Linked DNA regions of Homo sapiens: region 1 is linked to region 2. The links come from fine-mapping of genetic effects on gene expression. A gene starts in region 2. The other region holds a variant in brackets. All regions are shown on one strand. Distances are between the middles of the regions.

Region 1 (9,371 bases), 27 kb before region 2:
CTACCAACAGGCAACTGCGAGGGCAGAGACTGAGGGCCTGACCTAACGTCTAGTTACAGCGCCCCCCTCCCCAGGGACCTTACCCACATTCTCCATCAGAAACATAGCAAGCCAGACATCACGCTTCCTTTCCCTTGTGTAAGGACAGTCTCCCTCCTGGACAGGAGACACGGATTGTTGTGGGGGAAGGACAGACAGTAACCCATGTGGCATGCCCAGTGACCTCCCTAAGAACAGGGGAGCTGTGTGATGGTGGTGAGGGGATAGGCTCGGGGATTCCCCTCGCACCTGTCACGCCATCCACGCTGTCACACCGGCGGCTCCAGCCTGGGCTCTTCAGGGAAACAAGGGCTCTCCTCCTCCCACTTCCAAGAGGGAAGGGGCCTCCTCTTCTGTCTGAGGTGCTCCTCCCTCAGGGCTGGCTGCAGGAGGGCTGAGGCGGGAGGATCCCTGGAGCAGTTGTCATCTGCCCTTTCTTGAGGGCCAGCTGTGTGCCAGGCCAGGCAGGGGAGGCTCTGATCACCCCCACACACAAGGAACTCAACATCTGGTGACTGAGGACAAGCGTCACAGTCCCTTCCCTGTAAGGGCTCATAGCCTAAGTGGGGGATCGAAGTACCTAAAAACCTGGTATGACAGGCGCCGTGGGGTGGGGGGTGCCTTCTACTTGGGATTTGTGCAGTGAATTTTGGTGTTACATAGTTTTGGAACTGTTGTACGGGTCCTTGCTATTTTTGGCAAATGATGCTGGTCTTTCATTTACAGAGGGGCTGCGTGCAAAGTCTCCTTTGAAAAATTTATGTGAGCAAGGAAAAGGGGAGAGGATCTCAAAGACTGGGTTACGTAGATCACGTTCCAGGGGGTGCGCGACGGCCCACTTGGGCAGGGGGCCCAGATGTGGGAGCAGCTGGCTCAGGGCCTCGCTGGCATTTCTCAGAGTCTTAATGTTGGTTTTCTGTTCGGTGAGCAGGAAGCAAGGCAGCGAAGACAACCTCCAGGGCACCGACCCGCCCCCCGTGGGGGAGGAGGAAGTGCTCTTGTGAGAGGCAGTCCCTGCGTGGAAAGTTGCTGGGCCCCCGCCCCCGGCTCCCCCGCACGCATGCATCCACTGCGGCCGGAGGAGGCCATGGAGCCCGAGTAGCTGCCTGGATCGCTCGACCTCGCATGCGCGCCGCGTCGCCTCTGGGGGGCTGCTGCACCGCGTTTCCATAGCAGCATGTCCTACGGAAACCCAGCACGTGTGTAGAGCCTCGATCGTCATCTCTGGTTATTTGTTTTTTCCTTTGTTGTTTTAAAGGGGACAAAAAAAAAAAAAGGACTTGACTCCATGACGTCGACCGTGGCCGCTGGCTGGCTGGACAGGCGGGTGTGAGGAGTTGCAGACCCAAACCCACGTGCATTTTGGGACAATTGCTTTTTAAAACGTTTTTATGCCAAAAATCCTTCATTGTGATTTTCAGAACCACGTCAGATATACCAAGTGACTGTGTGTGGGGTTTGACAACTGTGGAAAGGCGAGCAGAAAACTCCGGCGGTCTGAGGCCATGGAGGTGGTTGCTGCATTTGAGAGGGAGTAGGGGGCTAGATGTGGCTCCTAGTGCAAACCGGAAACCATGGCACCTTCCAGAGCCGTGGTCTCAAGGAGTCAGAGCAGGGCTGGCCCTCAGTAGCTGCAGGGAGCTTTGATGCAACTTATTTGTAAGAAGGATTTTTAAATTTTTTATGGGTAGAATTGTAGTCAGGAAAACAGAAAGGGCTTGAAATTTAATAAGTGCTGCTGGAAGGGGATTTTCCAAGCCTGGAAGGGTATTCAGCAGCTGTGGTGGGGAAACATTTCTCCTGAAAGACTGAACGTGTTTCTTCATGACAGCTGCTCAAAGCAGGTTTCTGAGATAGCTGACCGAGCTCTGGTAAATCTCTTTGTCAAATTACGAAAACTTCAGGGTGAAATCCTATGCTTCCATGTACATTACATGGCTTAAGATTAAACAAAAACATTTTTCAAGTCTCTAACTAGAGTGAACTCTAGAGCACAGTAGTTCAGAAACTATTTAGAGCTTCCAGGATATATTTCACAGCTTCAGGCATGTGATCAGTTAGAGCCGATGAAACCTATGCCCGCCTGTATATATATTAGCAGCTTAGCTAGTTCATAACCTGTATATTCTAAAGACTGCTAAGGTTTTGTTTTCATTTTAAATCCTAGCTGATTGTTGTGGTCAATGAAATACCCAGTTTCTGGAGGGCCAGGTGGGAAATGCTTTCACTGGACCAACACACAAATGATCATCCTGAGGATCTGAGCTTCCCTAGACTCCACACAATAACCTTGGGGCACCCTTTTAGAGAAGACTGTTGAAACCCACAGCACTCGTTGGGGTATGAGGAAACCAGGGCTTGGCACAGGAAGTTCCCCTTTGTAGCTAAAAGTCCAGAAAGAAAGGGTTCATCTTTTTGACTTCCAACTGATATTGGGAAGTTTGGTTGAGGTTCAAGTGTGACTCCTTCCAGAGCCACAGGTAGGGGAGTGTGAAGTTGAGGGGGAGGAAAGCTGGAAGGACTCTGCCTTGGGAGATTCCCAGCTCTGCTTTCCAGCGCTTGGTGGAATCTGGGCTGGGGAAAGACGGCACCGGGAAACTCTGCTTCCCCATTGTTTCCATCTGATCAGCTGTGGTGTGAGGACTTCTCAGACAAAGGCAAGGCCTCGTGCCCCTGCCCAGCCCATTCATGGAGCCCTGGGCCTTCTTGGCTTCCATAGATCCTAAGCTCTTGACTGTAGTTTAGCCAGACTTGTTTTGCTATCTTATAAGCAGTTCAGAATTAGGGAATGCTGGTTTTGAAGAGCAAAGGACAGGTAGTCTAGAGAGGGTCGTCTGGCCTGCTTGCTGGGTCTTTGTAACCCAGCACTTCCTCTTGCCCTCCTGGCTTTATGTTTATGGGGAGAGGACTCAATAGCTCCACCCCTTCTGGCACCAGATGGGGCTTGGTTAGTTTGCAATAAGCACCTTGCAGAGGTTAAAGCCAGCGGGTCCCTAGTCTTAGGCCCAGCCTGCTTGTGTGGGCTCTGGCCTGGCCTGGTGGCTGGCCCAGGGGGCAGCAGTGCTTAGAGCTTCTGCAGGGCTTCTCTTGTTTACACAGCTGCATCAGACAATGCCATTTCTCCCCACCACGGAACCTTCCATCTAAGATTTCTTCCAGGGAATGCCAGCAATCAGGCAGCACCCAGCTGTGGGGGCAGTGGGGTGGGGGAGACCCACATTGATGACTTTTTTTTTTTCTTTTAATGAAGAAACACCAAAGAAAGCTGTGGAAAGGACCTGCCCCACATGAAAAGGATAAGCCAAGATGGCTGTAAACACAGAGCATTTGAGCTGCCACTCTTGGAGCACATTGATTTTTCAAAAGCCAGCTCTGTCAGGAAAGGAGGTGCTGTTATGAGCAGCTCTTCCAGTGGGCAAAGAGGACGCCCATAATTTCTTCCATTGCTAGCTCATCTGTGGGACCAATTTGGTGTAAGCAACCTGTGGCCTGCACTTGTGGCCTCGAAGGAAGCACAAACCCTCCATCCACTTCCCATTTCCTCTGCCCTTTTCCACCTCCCCCTTCCATCCCACCAGCTGCCAGTGGCTCCCAGAAAGCCTTATTGAGCCCCTTGTTGACACTTGGGGCTGCGGAGGCCTCTCCCTACTGGTCTGGCCTTTCCTGAGAGGCAGGTCTTCCGTCCTCAGAGCCTTTCTGGAACAAGGAGAATGCCTGTGCAGGTGGACACACAGGCCTGGCCTGTCGCTCTCACTTGTCTTCCAGCGGGGAGCTTCACGTTGCCGAGTGGAAGAACCATGACCTCCACTTGCTTCCAAGGTGCTAGGGAAGTTTCAGGGTACGCTGGTTCCCCTCTCCAGCTGGAGGCCGAGTTTCTGGGGACTGCAGATTTTTCTACTCTGTGATCGATTCAATGCCCGATGCTTCTGTTTCATTCCCGACCCTTTCTACTATGCATTTTCCTTTTATCAGGTGTATAAAGTTAAATACTGTGTATTTATCACTAAAAAGTACATGAACTTAAGAGACAACTAAGCCTTTCGTGTTTTTCCACAGGTGTTTAAGCTTCTCTGTACAGTTGAAATAAACAGACAGCAAAATGGTGCCAAGCCTGGGCCTCTTGGGGAGGTTTGTATTGGTGATTGTTTATTTAGGCCGCCTGCCCTGATGTCTGTATTCCTTCCTCAGGCTGACAGCGAGGTCAGATGCCCAAGTCAAGGCTAATGTATTCAGCAAATCTCTAATTTAGAGCATGTCCTAGGACCTTGCTACTCAGTGTGGCTCCCAGACCAGTAGCGCCAGTGTCACCTGTGAGTGGGTTAGAAACGCAGGTGC[C/T]GGCCGGGCACGGTGGCTCACACCTGCAATCCCAGCACTTTGGGAGGCCAAGGTGGGAGGATTGCTTGAGCCTAGGAGTTTGAGACCAGCCTGGACAACATGGCAAGACCCCATCTCTTAAAAAAAAAAAAAAAAATTAAAAAATTAATTGAGTGTGGTGGTGCATGCCTATGGTCCCACAGCTACTCAGGAGGCTGAGGTGGGGGGATTACGTGAACCCTGGAGGTCAAGGCTGCAGTGAGCTGTGATCATGCCACTGCACACCAGCCTGGGCAACAGGGCGAGACCCTGTTTCAAAAATTAAAAGAAAAAAATAAATGCAGATACCCAGGCTTGGCTTAAACCTGCTCCCCAGGTGACTCGTCCGTGTGCTGAAGTTTGAGCAGCACTGCTTTCGCAGGCAGGTAATTGCAAGATTCTGGTGGAGGCCAGACAGGTGGGCAGCCCCCGAGCAGTCTCAGTCACACTGAACTATGGCCTGGTATGCCACATGACACTTTACCCCACGAGGTAGGGATTAACCTCGTTTTATGGATCATCGTCTGTGAGGTGAGGCTCCAGAAAGTTAAGTCAGTTGTCCAAGGGTTAGAATTTGCCAGCAAAACCCTTCTGGTTTTCTTTTTTGAGACAGGGTCTCGTTCTGTCACCCAGCCTGGAGTGCAGTGGCAGTCTCGGCTCACTGCAATCTCCACCTCTCAGGCTTAAGTGATCCATCCACTTTGGGTTCCAAAGTAGCTGGGACCACAGGGGCCCACCACCACACCAGCCCCCACACCCAGATAATTCTTAAATTTTTTATAGAGACAGAATCTCACTATATTACCCAGGCCTGGTCTCAAACTCCTGGACTCAAGCAGTCCTCCCACCTCAGCCTCCCGAGTTGCTGGGACTACAGATGTGCACCACCATGCCTGGCTAATTTTTAAATTATTTGTAGGGATGAGGTCTCACTACCTGTTGCCCAGGCTGGTCTCAAACTCTTGGACCAAGTAATCCTCCTGCCTCAGCCTCCCAAAGTGCTGGGATGACAGGCGCGCATCACCACACCCAGCCTCCTGCTGGTGTTCATGGCATCTAGAAACACACCCGCCCCTCACCCCAACACTGGCTTGCTTTCACATTTGTTTTAGAAAAGAGGCTAAACAGCATCTCCCCCACTTCGGAAGACAGCCAGTGACCATCACTCCTTGACGAGCAAGATCATAAACACACCCATTGCCCTTAAGTCTGTTTTGTGCTGCTGTTACAGGGACCTAAGACTGGGTAATTTATAAAGAACAATAATTGATTTCTCACATTTCTGGAGGCCAGGAAGTTCAAGATCAAGGTGCTGGCAGGTTTGGTATCTGGTGAGGGCTGCTCTCTGCTTCCAAGAGGGTGCCTTGGTGCCGCATCCTTTGGAGGGAGGAACACTTGTCCTCGCGTGGCAGACAGTGGCAAGGCAGACGGGGGATGAGCTCCCTCTCTAGCCCTCGTATAGGGCACCAACCCCATTCATGAGGGCAGCGCAATCCTGACTCAGTCACCTCCCCAAGGCTTCACCTCCCAATAAGGTTGCCTTGGGGATGAAGTTTCCAAAATGTGAATTTTGGTAGACACATTCAGCCCATATCACCATTCCTAAACATTCCAGCTTCATTTGACCCATGTGCCTAAGCAAGCACTTTTTATTTTTTCAGACAGGGTCTCACTTTGGTGCCCAGGCTGGAGTACAGTGGCACCATCATAGCTCACTGCAGCCTCAACCTCCTGGGCTCAAGTGATCCTCCGGCCTCAGCCACCCAAGTAGCTGGGACTACAGATATATACCGCCACACCCGGCTAATTTAATTTTTTGTAGAGATAGGGTCTCACCATGTTGACTGGGCTGGTCTTGAATGCCTACGCTTAAGTGATCCACCTTGGCCTCCCAAAGTCCTGGGATTACAGGCAACAAGCATTTTTTTTTAAAAGGCAGCATGAACCAGAGCTTCAATAAAGGGAGTTGGTAAACTTTTTTTTTTTTTTCCAAAAGCAAGAAAAGCCCAGGTTGGCCATTTATCCAGCAGAAGCAGAGTATTTGTAAAATAATGGTTCCTCTCAGTACTTGGAAGTGAATTCATGGCAGAGGCGAAGGGCAAACTGCTTCCTCTAGGGGGATTCTGAATACCTGATGCAGAATTCAGCTGGTGTGTGGCTGGGTGCAGTGGCTCACGCCTGTAATCCCAGCACTTTGGGAGGCTGAGGCGGTGGATCATGAGGTCAGGAGTTCCAGACCAGCCTGGCCAACATGGTGAACCTCTGTCTCTACTAAAAATACAAAAATTAGCTGGGTGTGGTGGCAGATGCCTGTAATCCCAGCTACTTGGGAGGCTGAGGCAGGAGAATTGCTTGAACCCAGGAGGCAGAGGTTGCAGTGAGCCGAGATCATGCCACTGCACTCCAGCCTGGGCAATAGGGCAAGACTCTGTCTCAAAAACAAAAAAACACAAACATTTAGTTGGTGTGAAGCTGCAGCTGGAAATAGCTTCATGAACATTTCGAACCTGTGCGGAGCTAGGTATGCGTGCTGCTGCTTTTGGTTGGAGACTTTTGGGAAGCAAACAGGGAAGGGAGAGGAAGCCACTTCCATGTTACCAAAAATTGTGTTACCCACAGCATAGAATTGTAATTTTATGTCAAAATGGAGGCACAGGTAAGATGTCACTAGAGAAAAAGTGTCCTGTGAACTGTGCAGGAAGACAAGCTAATGACAAATTATTAGGCTTTAAAAAGTAGGCAGCTGGGTGCAGTGGCTCATGCTTGTAATCCCAGCACTATGGGAGGCTGAGGTAGGAGGATCGCTTAAGCCCAGGAGGTGGAGACTGCAGTGAGCAGTGATTGCGCCACTGCACTCCAGCCTGGGTAATAAAAAAAATAAATAGGCCAGGTGTGGTGGCGCACACCTGTAATCCAATCACTTTGAGAGGCTAAGGCAGATGGATCATTTGAGGTCAGGAGTTCGAGACCAGCCTGGCTGGCCAATGTGGTGAAACCCTGTCTCTACTAAAAATACAAAAATTAGCCGGGCATGGTGGCATGCACCTGTAATCCCAGCTACTCGGGAGGCTGAGGCAGGAGAATCGCTTGAACCCGGGAGGCAGAGGTTGCAATGAGCCGAGATTGCACCACTGCGCTCCAGCCTGGGCGACAGAGTGAGACTCTGCCTCAAAAATAAAATAAATAAATAAAGAAGTAGGGGAAAATGTGCATAAGTGCCAGAAACAGACCATCCCATGGACCTTTTCTGAGCACAGTGAGCCGGAATAGTGGATTTACTGGTTGTCGTAAAAGGGTAGGAAGGAAAGTTCTAGCACATGCTATGAGACAACAGACAGGGATTAAGAAAATCACGCTTTAATGTCTGGTCCTCGATCACCTTAGCACAGCGCTTCTCTGAGGAGAAATGCCAGCTCTGCCGCATGGCTGCAGGGAATGGTCGGGGGGAAGCCTGCAGCCCAGGCCTGCTACAAGTCTAGTGACTGCAGCCAGGCGGCCTCCCCTGCCGCATAAAGTGCTTGAACAGAGCCGCCGTGCCTCAGAGGACTGGGCCTGTCCTGGAGAGAGCTGGAGACAGGAGGCTTCTGAGCAAAGCCAGCTCCAGCCCTGAAAGCCACAGCAGTGCCACTGCGTCGGGCCAGCGCTCCCCCGACAACCCCAGGTTGCGGGAAAAGCAGAGTTGACCCAGCCAAGAACAGACTGCTGACCTCCTGGGCCGAGTGGGCAAACAGATCCTGCACACAACACACAGGAGCTGCTGGGGAACCCTGAGTGCTTGTGGAGTGGAGACTCAATCAGATTCCAGAAATTTCTCTGGGGTGATGTGGTGGCCATTTCTCCCTCCTCCTCCTCTCTGTTCTTTGATGGGGCTGTGGAGAGCCCAGGTGTGGGGTAGGCCTCACTGGTCCAGCTCACTAGCAAGACCCTGCAAAGAAGGACACAAGCAGATCAAGGTGCCCCTGGGACCCCTTGTGGCAGGCGGGAGGGAGGTGCGCTCCTGGGACTTCACCGCCAGGGGTTCTCAAGTTGGTCCCAGGCCTGGAACCCAACCCTTCCTGTTCCGCAAGGTGCACTGAAGTAGTGTGTGCCCACAGGCATTCTCAGAGCATGCATTATCATCACCAACCTGAGATGTCGCTCATTGAAACGAGGCTGGGTTTAAAGAGTCAATCTAGTACAGGGGCCTAGGGATGGAGCAGCTGCTGAGAGTGGCAGGACTGCCCGGGTTAACGGGGACACCACGCCACACTGGTGCCAGCCTCTGCAGAAGGGCCTCCCCAGACAGGCCCACGCCCAGGGCTCCCACACCCAAGAGATGAGAGGCCTGTGCCTGCTGGGGGCCAGGAGGGGCCTACCTGCTCGTAATCTTCCACATATTTATATTTCTTCTCCCGATAGTAGAGTCTTTTCTTCATGCAGTAGAGGACTATGATGTCACACAGCACGGTCGCCTGAGTTTAGCATAGGGTGAGAGTGAGCCAGGATGCTTGCAACCCATCAACCCATCTTATTCTTTGCGTGCCCCTTCCTGAGAAGCCTGGAATCTTTACCGGAATGGAAAGGCACTCCCATCTCTTGGGAGAAGGCTGGGACCTGAGGGGGGTGGTCTTGGAGAAGGGAAGGTGGGAGGAGGGCTGGGGGCCAAGGGAAAGAAGGTAGGAGGGTCAAGTTTAGAAACACATCTGAGGTCTAGGGCCTAGGGCCAGGACCAGGACCCCAGCCCAGGGTCTCACCTCACCGTGAGGGTGAAGGCAGGGCCTAAACCACTCACCATGCCTAGCAGTGCCAGGCCAGAGCCGATGTTGATCATAGTGGGGATGATGTCAAATTTCCCTGCCTGCCAAGACACCGAAAAAGAAAAAAAGTGTTTCTGCAGGGGCAGGGAGAGGCCCCTTGTCCCTGCAGGGAGTGACGGAGGGGAGCCAGTGGCGGCGAGCTACCTTCCCAAACACAATGATGTCGAAGCGGATGCCATAGGC
Region 2 (9,371 bases):
AGAAATTCACTGGTTTTGTTGAGGTCAGGAGTCCAAGACCAGCCTGGCCAACATTGTGAAACCCCGACTCTACTAAAAATACACAAAATTAGCTGGGTGTGGTGGTGGGTGCCTGTAGTCCCACATACTCGGGAGGCTGAGGCAGGAGAATCACTTGAACCCGGGAGGTGGAGATTGCAGTGGGCTGAGATCATGCCACTGCACTCCAGCCTGGGCAAGAGTGAGACTCTGTCCCTCCACCAAAAAAAAGAAAAGAAATTAATGGTTTTGTTACTTATGAGTGTGTGTGATCGAGCAGTCTCCAAGTTCATTGCCCAGCCTAGAGATGGGCTTTCCCCCCATGGGCTTTTCCCCTGACAAGTCCAGGGCTTCTAGGAATTCAGCTGCAGTGTAAGCTTCCATTTAATTCCAGTCTGACACACAAAAGCTTGGGGCAGGAAGACTGATGTACTCATCAAGTACAGTGAGTTGCTTAATTTAGAGACACAGGGTTTCATGCCACTCATTATCATGTGATTATTTCCTCCTCATATGATTGTTAACAGAGTTAGATAGATGAGAATTGCGTGTTCGGTCTTTTTTTGAGGGAGGGTTGCTGTAGGAGGAGACCACAATTTCACTAAGATGAGTTGCATCAAAAAGTTAAGAGATGAGGTTAAAAAAAAAAAGAGCCTTAATGCAGGTCCTGAGTCAGTTTTGATTATAGCAAGACGGACAAAAGCAAAGCATTTACTGCTTTAAAGATTCTCATGACCGAGATAGTGAATGCGTCATAAGGAATCCTACAGAGCTGCGCTGTCCCATAAAAACATAACGCGAGCCACATATTTTTTTTTTTGAGACAGGCTCTCGCTCTGTCGCCCAGGCTGAAGTGCAGTGGCACAATCTTGGCTCACTGCAACCTCCGCCTCCCAGGCTACAGCAATCCTCCCACCTCAGCCTCCCAAGTAGCTGGGTCCACAGGTGTGCGCCACTATGCCAAGCTAATTTTTCGTATTTTTGGTAGAGATGGGGTTTCACTACGTTGCCCAGGCTGGTCTCAAAATTCCTAAGCTCAAGGGATCCACTTGCCTCAGCCTCCCAAAGTATTGGGATTACAGGCGTGAGCTACCACAGGGCAAGACCCTGTAATTTAAAAGTTTCTAGTAGCCATGTCAAAAAGTAAAAAGAAATAGAAAGGGCTGGGCACGGTGGCTCATGCCTGTAATCCCAGCACTTTGGGAGGCCGAGGCAGACAGATTGCTAGAGCTCAGGAGTTCGAGACCAGCCTGGGCAACATGGAAACCTCATGATTGTAGAGATGAGATTTCTCATCTGTACAAACAAACAAACAAAAACACAATAATTAGCCAGTCATGGTGGTGTGCACCTGTAGTCCCATAATTCCAGAGGCTGAGATGGTAGAATCACTTGAGCCTGGGAGGCAGAGGTTGCAGTGCATTGCACTCCAGTCTGGGTGACAAAGCAAGGCGCCGTTTAAAAAGAAAAAAAGAAAAAAGAGACAGGAAAAATTAATTGTAATGATATATTCTGTGTAACCCAATATATCCAAAATATTTTAACATGTCATCAATAAAAAATGTTTTCATGTGATAGTGGTACTCTTTGTTTTTTTGAGACAGTGTCTTGCTCTGTTGCCCAGGCTGGAGGGTGGTGTGATCACAGCTCTCTGTGGCCTCAACCTCCCAGGTTCAAGCAGTCCTTCTGCCTCAACCTCCCAAATAGGTAGGCCTATAGGCGTGTGCCACCATGCCAGGCTAATTTTTGTATTTTTTTGTAGAGGCAAGGTCTCGCTATGTTGCCCAGGTTTGTCTCAAACTCTTGAGCTCAAGCGATCTTCCCACCTCAGCCTCCCAAAGTACTGTGATTTCAGGCATGAGCCACTGTGCCCAGCCTCTTTTTCTGTACTATGTCTTTGAAATCCAGTGTGTATTTTAAGGTTATAGCACATCTCAGTGTAGAGTAGGAACGGTTAAGTGTTCAACAGGTGCAAGTTACTAGTGGCTACCATACAGTGCAACACCACTATGGATATTTTCCGCAGTTGTAATTTTACAGGTACCCTAAGGTAGATGTGCACTGATCCTCCCACTAGCAGCAAACGCCAAAAGCAAAAAGCTGCAGGGGAGCTCCTGCCCCCAAATGCTTCAGGTCCAACCAGGGATGTGAGTTCAGTTAACTGGCTAGCAGTGAGTCTCCAAAAAAAAAAAAAAAATATATATATATATATATATATATATATATATATTTGAGATGGAGTTTTGCTCTTGTTGCCCAGGCTGGAGTGCAGTGGCGCAATCTGGGCTCACTGCAACCTCCGCCTCCTGGATTCAAACGATTCTCCTGCCTCAGCCTCCCATGTAGCCGGGATTACAGGCATTAGCCACTAGGCCTGGCTAATTTTTTGTACTTTTAGTAGAGACGGGGTTTTACCATGTTGGCCAGGCTGGTCTCGAACTCCTGACCTCAGGTGATCCACCCGCCTCGGCCTCCCAAAGTGCTGAGATTATAGGCATGAGCCACCGTGTTCAGAAAAAAAAAAAAAAAAAATTCTTTTTTTTGCACTGCTCCATCAGTACAATTTACCATTTTAAACTTTATTTTTCTCTTAGAGATGGGGTCTCGCTATGTTGTCCAGGCTGGTCTTGTGTCCAGGCTGGTCTTGAGCTCCTGGCCTCAAGCAATCCTCCCACCTTGGCTTCCCAAAGCACTGGGACTACAGGTGTGAGCCAATGAGTCCAAATCTGGGTGTGGGCCAGGTGGTTCTGATGTTGAGTCTGCACCTGGAAAGCCATCCTCTTGAATACTGTCTGTATCTACTGCTGCTGCTGACAGATATTGGAAGCCAAACCTGCTTGGGCTTCCCTTGGGCAGTGTTAAGATTCCAAACCTCACCCCAAAGACGGGGGGATCTGTTACTTTTAAACAATTCCTCAGATGAGTCTTCCATGATCAGGTAAACTTGGGAAACACAGTTCATTGGTTCCGAAACGTTGCTGAACATGAGAATCACCTGGGCAGCCGATCATACTCTGCAGCAATTAAATCAGAAGGTCTGGGGATGCGTCTGGGCGCGGTGGCTCACGCCTGTAATCCCAGCACTCTGGGAGGCTGCGGCGGGTGGATCACCTGAGGCCAGGAGTTCGAGACCAGCCTGGCCAACATGGCGAAACCCTGTCCCTACTAAAAATACAAAAATTAGCCGGGCATGGTGGTGGGTGCCTGTAATCCCAGCTACTCAGGAGGCTGAGGCAGGAGAATCGCTTGAACCAGGGAGGTGGAGGTTGCAGCGAGCCAAGATTGCACCACTGCACTCCAGCCTGGGCGACAGAGGGAGACTCCATCAAAAAAATAAAAAAGGGTCTGGGGATGGGAGCCAAAGATTTCCAGATGGTTCCAATGTGCAGTTTGGAGACCACTGCACTAGGCAATACGTGTCAGCCCAGCAGCTGTAGACACCAGAACACCCCAGGTAAGCCTTTAAAGTGGCCCCAGGTGGCAAGGTAATTATCATCTTCTCTCTCGCGTTGTATTCAATTGTAACAGGTGCCAGCCCCGCGTGGGGGCTCACGCCTGTAATCCCAGCATTTTGGGAGGCTGAGGTGGGCGGATCACCTGAGGTCAGTTCAGGACCAGCCTGAAACCCCGTCTCTACTAAAAAATACAAAAATTGGCCGGGCGTGGTGGCGGGCACTTGTAATCCCAGCCACTCAGGAGACTGAGACAGGAGAATTGCTTGAACCCGGGAGGCAGAGGTTGCAGTGAGCCGAGATCGTGCCATTGCACTCCAGCCCGGGCGACAAGAGAGAAATTCCGTCTCAAAAAAATAAAAAAATTAAAAAAGTAACAGGTGCCTTCAAGTACAATGGCACATTCAGCGAGGCCTGAGGGCGGTAGGGCATCTCTAGCCTAAGGGGGCAGCATGGGGAATGACTGACTAGGCTAGGGCAGGTACCACAAAAAGCCCCACAAGCCCAGAAAACAAAGGAAGCAAACTTTAAACACTCGCTACAGTCTGACCTCGCTACTACCACATAGTGACACCGCATAGTGATCAAAAGAAATGACCAAAAGCCACCCACCCAGAAGGAACCAAGCGGAAATTCCAAGCTTTGGTTTTGTCAGCAAATCAGCAGGATGGGAAGTGGAGAGCGAAGATTGAGACGTTCAGGGCGAAGCCCCTACAGCCAAGGGGCACTATGGGGGGTCAGGCAGGAGAGGGTAACAGCCTAGCCAGGCTTTGCCTTTATTTATTTTGTAAACAGACGGGTCTCGGACTGTCTCCCAGGCTCGAGTTAAGTGGTGTGATCATAGCTCACTGCAGCCTCAGCCTCTTGGGCTCAAGCGATCCTCCCACCTCAGCCTCCTGAGTAGCTGGGACCCCAGGCGCGCGCCACCAGGCCCGGATGATTTTTAATTTTTTGCAGAGACGGGGTCCCACGATGTTGCCCAAATTGGTTTCGAACTCCTGGGCTCAGGCGATGGTCCCGCCTCGGGCTCCCAAAGTGCTCGGATTACAGGCTTGCGCCACCGCGCCTGGCCCAGGCTGTGGTTTTAAAACAGCAGCAAGCAGCCTCCCGCCCCCGGGGCCCCGGCGCGGCGGCTGGGGCCCAGGGAAGGTGTCACCGCCTCGGCTCGCCGCTCCCGGACTCGCCCAGGTGACCGAGGCCAGGATGAGCCGCCGCACGGCGCGGACGCGAGGGCAGCACCCGCCGCGCCCCCCGCGCGGCCCCACGCTCACCCGATGACGTAGGCCAGGATGAGCAGTTGCACGGCGCGGTTCATGAGCCCCACTTTGCGGCTGCGGATGAGCACGATGCGCGGCGTGTCGTACTCGAACAGGAAGGCCGCCAGCGCGGCGCAGCAGCCCGCCATGGCCGCGCCGCCCGCTCCCAGTCCCCTAGTCGGTCTGGGTCCCAGTCCCCGCTCGGAGCCCCGCCCAGTCCGCCTGGCCTGCTGGCGGCGCCGTCATCGCGGAGGAGGGCCCGGAAGGAGGCAGCACGGGCGGTCGGGGCCCGGGGCCCGGGGGAGGGCGCCACCTCCCCGTCGGGAACGATGACCCTCTAGGGGGCATGGAACTCGCGGGGGGGGAGTGGCCTCGCCCTTGAGGACGAAAGGCTCCTTCAAAAGGCGGGCGAGGGGCCGGGGGCGGTGGCTCACACCTGTCATCCCAGCACTTGCGGAGGCCGAGGTGAGAGGAATCTTGAGTTAGAGACCAGCCTGGACAACATAGCGAGACCTCGTCTCTATCAAAAATACAAAAAAAAAAAAAAAAAAAAAAAAAAAGCGGGCGTAGTGGCGCTCGCCTGTAGTCCCAGGGAGGCTGAGGTGAGAGGATCGCTTGAGCCCAGGAGGTAGAGGCTGCCGTGTGAGCTGTGATCGCGCCACTGCACTCCAGTCTGGGAGATGAAGCGAGACCCTGCCTCAATAAACCAGAAACCAAAAAACAACAAAAAAGGCGAGTTGGGGAGTAATGACCTTCTCAGGAGGGCCAGAGAGAACAAGAGACCCTTTCGGGGAAGATGGGGTCCGCGAAGAGAGAGTGACCTCCCATTTGGGACAGAGTTCAAGTGAGGGGTAACGAGCGACCTCCCTTAGGGGTACTGATAGGTGCCAGGGATTTCCGTAGAGGACCCCGGGGCTGTGCGGAGTAGCCATCGCTCACGAGTGCGGGCTCCTAAACTTGGGCAGCTGTGGTTGGGGGAGCTGGGGCCGCGCTGTCCTTAGCCTCTTGGGGAACAGCCTAAATATCAGGTGTCCTGTGAGCCCTGGGTGAGAGCCACACGCCCTGTAAAATACCCCTCCTGGATTTGAAGCCTGGTCGCATTCTCACTCCAAATACTTCCTTAGTTGCAGCCCAGGGGAGATAATTCTGTGGTCATCCTTTCCACTGAGAAAATGCTATCACAACTTTAGGAGAGAAAATAGTGAAAGGGGGGGAAACAGCCACCGTTCTACCCCATGAATACAATTTTCCGCATGTGTATTTGTTCATTCCCTTCAGATACGTTTTTTCTTTTTCTTTTTCTTTTTTTTTTTGAGACGGAGTTTCACTCTTGTCCAGTCTGGAGTGCAGTGGCGCGATCTCGGCTCACTGTAACCTCCGCCTCCCAGGTTCAAGCAATTCTCCTGCCTCAGCCTCTTGAGTAGCTGGGATTACAAGTGCCCGCCACCACGCCCAGCTAATTTTTGTATTTTTATTAGAGACAGGTTTTCACCATGTTGGCCAGGCTGATCTCCAGCTCCTGACCTCCCATGATCCACCCGCCTCGGGCTCCCAAAGTGTTGGGATTACAGGCGTGAGCCACTGCGCCTGGCCCAGATGTGTTTTCACAGGTGAATGTTATATTTAGTTTCCCAGAAAATATTCATAAGCACATCCTTTATGCCAAGTACTGTCCAGTGAACAGGACAAGCAAAATATCCTGCCTTCATGCAGCATAAATTCCAACAGGTAATTGGTATAAAGTTTTGGTTTGTAATCATAGTCAATGGCTGTGCTTTTCATTTTCTGATTCGCACTACGTGGTTTCTGTGTTACTGCAGACTCATCATAATGACAATTTTTAATCCATGGACCATTTCTTCCGGAAAATATACCACGATGTCTCTAACCGCTCTCATCTGCTTGCTTCTTAGTTTGTGGATCCTATGCATAATCTTTGATACAACATTTTTAGCTCATTTCCTGGATATGAGATTCCTAAGTAAGCCACACCAACTTGTTTTTCCAAATATAGAAAGGTGAATAATAAAATTTGCAGAAAACAGGCAGCATCTGCCTCTAAGAGATGGAATTCTTAAGTTAGAGGGAGGAACAGAGATGCCCATGCCAGCCTTGGTCCAAAATGGTCTCAGGAAAAGGTGGTGGTATTTTATTCATTCATTTGACAGAAATTTACTGAGTGCCTGTTGTGTGCTTGGCACTTTTCTTGATGCTAGGGCTATGGAGTGGACAGGTGAGGTATCTGCCCAAATGGAGTTTGGTGCAATTGGGAAGCCTCAAATTATCTGTAGAAGAAGAAAACTCCATTGCTAAATCCTCATTGGAAGGGGACTTAAAAATCATTTCCTTAAGAATCAAAACATGGCTGGGCACGGTGGCTCACACCTATAACTGCAGCACTTTGGGAGGCCGAGGCAGGCGGATGATCATGTGAGGTCAGGAGCTGGAGACCAGCCTGGCCAACATGGTGAAACCTCATCTCTACTGAAAATATAAAAAACTTAGCTGGGCCTTATGGCAGGTGCCTGTAATCCCAGCTACTCGGGAGGCTGAGGCAGGAAGAATTGCTTGAACCTGGGAGGCGGAGGTTGCAGTGAGCTGAAATTGTGCCACTGCACTCCAGCCTGGGTGACAGACTCCATCTCAAAACAAACAAACAAACCCCAAAAAACACCAGGCACGTGGCTTACACCTTTAATCCCAGCACTTTGGCAGGCCAAGGTGGGTGGATCACCTGACATTGGGAGTTCGAGACCAGCCTGACCAACAATGGAGAAACCCCGTCTCTACTAAAAATACAAAAATTAGCTGGGCGTGGTGGCGCATGCCTGTAATCTCAGCTACTCAGGAGGCTGAGGCAGGAGAATTGCTTGAACCGGGGAGGTGGAGGTTGCCATGAGCTGATCACGCCATTGCACTCCAGCCTGGGCGACAAGAGTGAAACTCCATCTCAGAAAAAATAAAAATAAAAAATAATGGCAGCAATCAAAACACATTTCCAGCCTTCATTCATACTTACCCTATAGTAATGAGTTAGTCCCAACCTCACAAATCTTGAATTTAGATGGTTTGCTTGTGTTTTGGAATGGGGTCAGTTAAGAAAAATGTAGAAATGCAAGTTTTTATAAATTACTAGTTGGTAACATCATTAGGCCTGACCAAAGAAGCTGATCCTAAAAAATGATTTGGAAAAGTTATTTTGTTTACACTGTTGCTCTTGGATTATCTCTTTTTAAAAAATAACTTTATTGACCAGACATGGTGGCCCATTCCTGTAATCCCAGCACTTTGAGAGACTAAGTTGGGAGGATTGCTAGAGCCCAGGAGTTTGAGACCAGCCTGGACAACATAGGGAGACCCCCATCTCTATAAATACTTTAAAAATTAGCCAGCCATGCTGGTGCATGCCTGTGGTCCCAGCTACTTGGGAGGCTGAGGCAGGAGGATCACTTGAGTTTAGGAGGTCAAGGTTGTAGTGAGCTGCAATTGTGCCACTGCACTCCAGCCTGGGTGACAGAGTGAGACCCTGTCTCAAAAATAAATAAGAAGGCGGGATGCGGTGGCTCACACCTGTAATCCCAGCACTTTGGGGGGCCGAGGTGGGTGGCTCACTTGAGCTCAGGAGTTCCAGACCAGCCTGGGCAACATGGTGAAACCCCATCTCTACAAAAAGTACAAAAATTAGCTGGGCATGGTAGCACGCACCTGTAGTTGTAGTCCCAGCTACATAAAATTTTTAAAAAAATAAATTGGCCAGGTGTGGCTCACACCTGTAATCCCAGCACTTTGAGAGGTTGAGGTAGGTGGATCACTTGAGGTCGGGAGTTTGAGACCAGCCTGACCAACATGGTGAAGCCCCATCTCTACTAAAAATACAAAAGTTAGCCGGGTGTGGTAGTGCATGCCTGTAATCCCAGCTACTTGGGAGGTTGAGGTAGGAGAATTGCTTGAGCCCAGCAGGCGGAGGCTGCAGTGAGCTGATATTGTGCCACTGCCCTCCAGCCTGGGTGACACAGTGAGACTCTGTCTTAAAAAAAATAATATAATAAAAATAATAAGGAAAGAGAGAAAATTAAAAATGGATCAAAGACATACATATAAGAGCTAAAATTATAAATCTCTCTGATGAAAACATAGGGGCAAATCTTTGTGACCTCGGATTAGACAGTGGTTTTTTAGATTTAGATTTTGTTGCCTAAAGCAAGGCAACAAAAGAAAAAAATAGATAAATTGGACTACTTTGTCAAAACTGAAAAGTTCGTGCTTCAAAGTTACCATCAAGAAAGGGAAAAACCCACAGAATGATAAAATATTCACATATCCTATATCTGTTAAGGATCTAGTATTTCAGATATCGTAAGAACTCTTAAAACTCACCAATAACATGACAACCCTATTTAAAAATGGGCAAACATATCTGAATAGACATTTCTCCAAAGAAGATATACACATGAGATCAATAAACACAAGAAGATGCTCGATATCATTATCGTTAGGGAAATACAAATCAAAGCCACAGTGAGATACCATTTCCTCCCCACTAGCATGGTTATAATTAAAAAGATGGACAATCAAAAAGCTGGCAAGGATGTGGAGAAACTGGAACCCTCACACATTACTCATGGGAATGTAAAATGGTCCAGCT

Evidence for each region. PIP is the estimated chance that this variant, and not a neighbour inherited with it, causes the effect.
Region 1: its variant is fine-mapped to the expression of P2RX4 in whole blood (TOPMed, PIP above 0.99).

Annotation. Positions count from the first base shown.
Region 1 is chr12:121,232,469-121,241,839 of GRCh38, reverse strand. It overlaps P2RX4 (purinergic receptor P2X 4), which reads right to left. Exons shown (of 12, transcript NM_002560.3): 9 at 9,333-9,371; 10 at 9,164-9,229; 11 at 8,748-8,843; 12 at 7,734-8,317. The coding sequence ends at 8,291. CAMKK2 (calcium/calmodulin dependent protein kinase kinase 2) reads left to right here. Exons shown (of 17, transcript NM_001270485.2): 17 at 971-4,148. The coding sequence ends at 1,141. Among named protein-coding and RNA genes, the nearest start is that of P2RX4, 27 kb to the right of the region's middle. RefSeq lists a silencer at 995-1,074 and an enhancer at 7,471-8,098. The variant C/T (reference allele first, on the strand shown) is at 4,375.
Region 2 is chr12:121,205,669-121,215,039 of GRCh38, reverse strand. P2RX4 (purinergic receptor P2X 4) reads right to left here and starts at 4,911. Exons shown (of 12, transcript NM_002560.3): 1 at 4,742-4,911. The coding sequence starts at 4,875. It overlaps LOC105370032 (a long non-coding RNA gene), which reads left to right and starts at 4,968. Exons shown (of 4, transcript XR_001749352.3): 1 at 4,968-5,191. RefSeq lists an enhancer at 4,086-4,135 and a silencer at 4,466-5,205.